Linked DNA regions of Homo sapiens. The protein of the gene in region 2 purifies or fractionates together with the protein of the main gene of each other region. This does not show direct contact. Each region holds a gene or a part of one and is shown on either strand. Other genes may lie near its edges.

Region 1 (3,500 bases), on a different chromosome or scaffold from region 2:
GAACAAGAGGTAATTTATTTTTTCTTTGTTAAAAATTGTTTACAAAGTCAACCTAAACTGGCTGCGTGGAAACCATTCAGTACCCATAGCTTTTCCCTTTGTCTTGAAAAGGAAAACTGTCAAAACCAGTTTTGTGAAGCAAGTTACTTTCCCAGAGTTTTCTCACCTTATCAATAAAGATTACAAATACTTAATAACAAAATGATAAACTTTTACAGTCCATTTAAAAAATCTATGTTAGTAACAATATCTGACACTGTAGTTCACTTATGAAGGCAGTGACAGGATTATTGTGCCTAGTTTAGTTACCTTGTAGGAACTATGACTGACAATAAGCTCCAAGAAGAGGATTTCTTCTTTTTCTCCTCTGTGTGAAGCAAATGGGTCAAGTCAGGGGCAAAGAGAGCAAGGAAAAATCAGTTATTTGAAGCTGTCAGTCTCATTGGAAATAGAAAACAAGTCCGGTGCTTTCTATATTGTGGTTTTAATGGGGGAATTTTTTCCTCACATTAGTACTTCTCTGATACGTATAATGGAAATTACAAGAATAATGGACTTAAAAACAATTCATTTTATTTTCAGTTGGAGGTTGTGTGTGTGTGTGTGTGTGTGTGTGTGTGTGTGTATTTAAAGATCCTTTTCAAAGTTGTAGTATTAAAAAAAAAATTACAGAGACAATTTGGGTAAAATCAGTGCTTTCTTAGTAAAAAACCTATAAGACAAGGTGAGGCTCTCTCTCCCCTCTTTGGGCTGCCAGTATGCTGTGAATCAGATTACACCTATGTTGCTTAAACATATTAAATTTGATAAAAATCGTTGAAAATAAAACTATCAGTTTTTTCAAACTGGGAGACTTAGTATGAAAAGATGGTGTATATTCTAGCCTCTTCAATAGTCAGGAACAGTTTCTTTATTGTAGAAAGAGCATTGGGACATTGTCCTTGCCTCTTGCTGTGGACAACCAAACTGACAAATGGTTATTTTGTTTGACTATTTAAAAAGCAAAGCAATGTGAGATTATAAAAGATATGTCTTTAATTAGATGTCGGACTGAATATGAAGTTAAAGATCAAGCTGCAAAAGGGGATGAAGTTACTCGAAAACGATTTCATGCATTTGTACTCTTTCTGGGAGAACTTTATCTTAACCTGGAGGTGAGAAGTTTTTCTTTTGTTAAGTACTAACAAGGCCTGAGAACATAAGTTGATCTCAATGAGGAATTTGTGTTCACATTGTACTTTTACAACATTAAGAGTGAAATGAAAGAGAGAGGAAAGAAAACATGTTTCGGCACCTGCTAGTGTCTGTGGTTTACTGGACCGTCTGTCCATAACATTTACTCATGGACAGAATGTTAGGAAATAATTACTGAGGTAAAAATCTGCGTACTTTTAGGAAGCTGTGGTTTACATGCAAATTTAAGTTCTTGAGATATCAACAGTGATACCTTTTTGAGTTCTTACATCTTATATATTAATACATTTAGTATGTTGACTTTCAGATGGTGGCTCAAAGCAGTTTACTCTGCAGAACTCTGAGTGAAAAGAGAGACTAGAGTCTCTCTAGGCTTTTCACTCTAATTCACCCAAATAGTTTTTTAAAAATATTTTTTTAATTGACAAAAATTATATCTTTATGGTACACAACACTTTGATATATGCATACATCGTAGAATGGCTAAATCAAGCTATTTAACATATGCATTACTTGACATACTTTTTTGTGTTAAGAACACTTAAAATTTTTAGCAGTTTTCATGTATACAATATATTGTTAACTATAGTCATCATGGTGTACAAGAGATCTCTTGAACTTATTCCCCCTAAATGAAATTCTGTGTCCTTTGACCAACATCTCCCCAATACCCCAACCCCTAAGAATAGTTCTTTTTTGTCCTATTTTATATATTAATCTTCCACATAAAAATGCATTTGTACAAAGTCTACAGCTAAACGTATTTATAAATTTGGGTGGTATACTTAAGTATATGCTTGTTAGTAGGCAATAGAAGTGCTGGATTCAGCACGGCATTATTACTGTGTAATAGATTTGCTTGATTTTTTTTTTTTTTTTTTTTTTTTGGGTGGGGACAGTCTCGCTCTGTCACCCAGGCTGGAGTGCAGTGACGTGATCTCGGCTCACTACAACCTCCGCCTCCCGGGTTCAAGCGATTCTCCTGCTTCAGCCTTCTGAGCAGCTGGGATTACAGGCACGTACCACTATGCCTGGCTAATGTTTATATTTTTAGCAGAGATGGGGTTTCACCATGTTGGCCACGCTGGTCTCAAACTCCTGACCTCAGGTGCTACCCGCCTCAGCCTCCCAGAGTGCTGGGATTACAGGCATGAGCCACCATGCCCAGCCTCTGCTTGATTTTTTAAATTAGTGAATATCAGATATAAGCTTATACCTTCTTACACCCTGATTTGAGAACTTAAGATCGTAAACGCCATAATATCAGAAACATCATAAGACAATGTGAATCTATCAAATGTGCATCTCAGTCATTGTATCTAAAAGGTCTATGTCCAGTCCAGAGCCTAACTTACTATGCCTTTTTACCACAGGTAGACTTAGTTTTTTGAAAAATCTTATGCCATGTTCTTTTTCAGTCTAATTTTTGTTTAAGCCAAAATATGGACAGCAATCTAAAATAAATACTGTTGAGCATTTTCTATATGGAGATAATGATGCTAGGTCAATGGGGGATGTAAAGATAAGGCTTAGTTCCTGCACCTAAAATTCTTCTACACAGTGATATAAGATACATATACCACTCTGATGCAAAATACCATATTTTAAAATATTTTAAAAGCAGAATAAAATGCTGTGTGTTCAAAAAAAAGTGGTAGTTGAACAAACTAAAGAAAGCTTTATGAAGTAGTAACATCAAAGTGGGCTTAAATTATGCTGACTCTGGTATTAAATTTTACCCATAGCTTACCAGTTTTATTAGAGGTCTTAGTTACATATAAAGTAATTCTAACAAATTCTGTGAAGATATCAGAGTGTGTTCCTGTGACTTTTGTGATTTAGCTAAAATGCTTATTTTGCCAACACCTTGTTAGTTCATTTATGTATCTGTATTATATTTTGGCATCATTCCTTTTGTTCTTTTTTTTGGTCCCGAAAGATCAAGGGAACAAATGGACAGGTTACAAGAGCAGATATTCTTCAGGTTGGTCTTCGAGAATTGCTGAATGCCCTGTTTTCTAATCCTATGGATGACAATTTAATTTGTGCAGTAAAATTGTTAAAGGTAGGTTTTTTTTTTTAATTTAACTAATTTACGTATTTACTTATGATTTAGAGGAAGGTTAGTCTATATAGTATACAGATGAATTCAAGATTTATCACTTTAAGGTAAATATTGACATTTTACTTTTTTCTCGAATATTTTGGAAAAGCGAGATATACTTATTGTTTAATATATGAAGCAAGTTCAGAAGTGAAAAATGGAAGTCCTTTACGCCATTTCCATTTGCAAATTCTGTCTTCTT
Region 2 (3,500 bases):
ATAGTCAAATGCCAACAGTTAATTAAATGCTCTAAGAAATCTCAAAATACATATACCACAAGGAAAACAGATACTTTAAAGCTAACAAGTGTGCTTTTTAATTGTGCGTAACTGTTATATTCATACCTTGAAGTAGTCATCTTGAGTAACAACAGAGTTTCTCAGTCTGTTCTCTGGATTAAACAGACAAGATACCACCGTTTGTATGCTTCGGTCCACAGATTTCTGAAACACAGAAGTTTTCAGTAATGTAAAGACGACTCTTTCACTCACTCTTAGTAAGGGTTTTTTTTTGATAGTTTAATGAATATATTACTTTATTTCTAAAGAAATGCAAAAAATGCTAAAAGAGACTGGGAGTGGTGGCTCACGCCTGTAATCCCAGCACTTTAGGAGGCCAAGGCAGGAGGATTCCTGCCTCCTCCTGAGGTCAGGAATTCAAGACCAGCCTGGCCAATATGGTGAAACCCCATCTCTACTAAAAAAATACAAATATCAGCTGGGCATAGTGGCGGGTGCCTGTAATCTCAGCTACTCAGGAGGCTGAGGCAGGGAGAATTGCTTGAATCCAGGAGGTGGAAATTGCAGTGAGCCAAGATCACACCACTGCACTCCAGCCTGGGCAACACAGCGAGACTCTGTCTTGGGGAAAAAAAAAAAAAAAGAAATTCATAAAAATGTGATTCATAATTCTTACCACGTATCACTCAATATGCAAGTTTTCTGACAAAGATTTTAGAACCTTAGTGATAGAATACTGGTTTAAAAAGCTGAATTTGTTAAATCCCTAAGTGAACTCCAATGTTTCAAGAAAAAATATTCAGGACAAAACCTGAAAATTACACTGTAAGCTATTTTAATATTTATTCGCATTTTAAAATCGAGTATCAAATCAAGGAATTTACACTCCAATGGGACTTCAGTGTTATACATATTACCAACACATCAACTACTTCTACACTCCCGCTCATTTAAGAGAACATATGTGATTCAAGAGTGATAGTATTATTATGGAAATTTGCTCTAATGATAAAAAGAAGAAAGAACCCTGCCTAATTCAATATTTGAATAATTATTACTGACTTCACCACTGTTGGGAACTACTGCCATATATAATGTTACAGAGAGAATGCCGTAAGTAATGTGTTTCACTGTTTAAGTAAATATCAAAATTATAAAAGAAAAGGTACATGTAATTCGTACCAATTCCTCTTTTGAAGAGTAGAATTCTTGAGGAAACCTTCCCATAACATTCTGCCAAATCCTATTAATATAGTATTTATTGAAGTATGGTTTTTAAAAATTAGTGGAACTGGAATATAGGAAAGGACTGCTGAATCAGAAACTTTATGTATACATTGAAAATTTGGGCTATCTGAAATTTCACCAACCTTTACATTAACTGCTGAATATTAGTCAATTATTTAAGATCTATAATTTATGGCTCCTATCTTGCCCAGGGTGGTCTCGAACTCCTGAGCTCAAGCAATCCACCCATCTCAGCCCCAAAAAGTGCTGGGATTACAGGCGTGAGCCACTGCACCCAGCCAAGATCTGCTTTCTGTATCTAAAATTTTCTTTTACTATTTGGTCAAGCCAGTCAACTAACTCTTCTCTAGTTAACCTTTTCAATTACAAATTTCTGCTGAAGGATGATTGCTTCTCAAAAAACCATTATTAAAACTAGAAAAAATAAATATGAAATATATATAAACAAAATTAGATGTTTGCCTTTTGTGGGCCATTTCCAGAGGGTGGAGTAGCTTCATGAACTGAACATTCATTTGGCACAACTTCAGCTCCTGGATCAACTTCATTACAGTGGTAGTTAACAGCTGAATAAGCCTATATTTAAAATAATGAAAGTGTAATTAAACAGATATACAGATATATTTAAAAGCCACTTATTCTTCAAAAAGCTAAGCTGGTATCAAAAGTTTCAATGTAGGTTGTGTTGAAATTCAATTATATTATTTCAAAAACTTTGTTTTAAATGAACAGTTGAAATACAGTAAGGCAGCCTTCTGTTTTAGAATGTCTTTAAGGCATCAACATAATCAGAAGTAGAAGAACTCTAAGAAACTAATGTAGTAAGAGAGTGTTTGAGAATTTTAACACTTATTATATCCTTCAAATTTCCAATCCTGATAAAAGACAGCAGCTTGGGTGTTTTAGACGTAATACTCTTGTTTTATTCCTATTTTTATTTAACAGTAATTAACAGCAAAACATTTCTGTTCCTCTTCAACAGTTTTTTTTATGGCTGGTAAAGCCAGAGGCAGAGTCTAGGCAGATACATGCTAATTCTAAAGCCACATTAATACTACCTTTCCTGAATTATATAGTCTATCAACAAGTAACTGAACACTTATCATTATGTGGACCAGCCATTGCTTAAGCACACAAAAACCTGAGAGAAGAAGGCACTGTTGCTCCCATGGGAGTTTCTAACTGGGTTAAAAAGAAAGTAACAAAATGTAACACATTAATACAAAAAACTATTTAAAAATATAGGCATATATGACATGGAAAACAATCAAGAAATATAGTTAAACAAAAAAAAATACTTTAAAATAACAGGAATTATATGTTTGGCTAATTCACTTTACCGGAGGTACAACATAGCTCCTTTGCTCCCCAACAGGCCACTGTGGTGGCATCTTAAAAAAAAAAAAAAGGAAACCAAAATTATTCAAATATTCCTACAAATTTTCAAAAACACACGAGATACACAATATTGAAGTACTTATCATGCTGGCTCCTTTGTTGTTATAATAAAAGAAACAGAATGAAAAAAAAGTACTTTATGTTTCTAATCCCTGATGTTCTTGTTACTTCCATATATAAAACCTCACCTTTTTCCCAATTTTCTGGAGTTGGCATTGTGGAAATCTCAGAGATATTAGTTCCTTGAATTTATTACCATAGATATGATTATGGGTCACAGATACAGTCATATCTATGTAAAGAGTCTCAAAGAACTACTATCATGAAGCAGTCAGCTAAAATAAAAATACAATTTGAATTCTGTGCTCTAAGAATTGGATAATTTTATTTCACTCTATCTCCCTAAAAAATTGATGAAAGTCCGTCTGGCTGTTTCGGCTATTTGACAGCAAAGATGAAAAAATACATGCTGAAATACAGAAGGGGACACCGAATCTCATAAAACTGTTGTAGAGAAAAGTTATTGCTAAGTATATCCCTGTCAAAATATTATTCCATTACTTCTAAATAATAAAGAGGTCTTAATTCTAGACTAATTTTTTTCTTAAATTTTAGGTACATTTCACTAGTTTAAAATGACAAACCATTCAGACAATTTGTATAAACAAGTTAAAGGCCTCAATAAAATCTGAAAGTAAATCATTTTACTCCCTTTTAAATTACCTGATAATTATATACAGGCAACTGATATCCAGTGATGACCTGAACTGGTGAATTTGGGTAAGTAGGATATGCCTGAAAATCAAGTTTACAGAAAGAATGAATAATATAAA

Evidence for each region. Proteins that work in one complex are often made in the same cells at the same time.
Region 1: the proteins of DAZL (region 2) and PAIP1 purify together in Homo sapiens (affinity purification with mass spectrometry; one large-scale study listed by BioGRID and IntAct). This does not show direct contact.

What each region holds. Positions count from the first base shown.
Region 1 is NC_000005.10:43,536,578-43,540,077, reverse strand, and holds part of PAIP1 (polyadenylate-binding protein-interacting protein 1), read left to right. Parts: intron 1-1,042; coding exon 1,043-1,154; intron 1,155-3,133; coding exon 3,134-3,259; intron 3,260-3,500. UniProt on the Homo sapiens protein: Acts as a coactivator in the regulation of translation initiation of poly(A)-containing mRNAs. Its stimulatory activity on translation is mediated via its action on PABPC1. Competes with PAIP2 for binding to PABPC1.
Region 2 is NC_000003.12:16,591,924-16,595,423, forward strand, and holds part of DAZL (deleted in azoospermia-like), read right to left. Parts: intron 3,463-3,500; coding exon 3,391-3,462; intron 2,661-3,390; coding exon 2,610-2,660; intron 1,846-2,609; coding exon 1,732-1,845; intron 226-1,731; coding exon 127-225; intron 1-126. UniProt on the Homo sapiens protein: RNA-binding protein, which is essential for gametogenesis in both males and females. Plays a central role during spermatogenesis.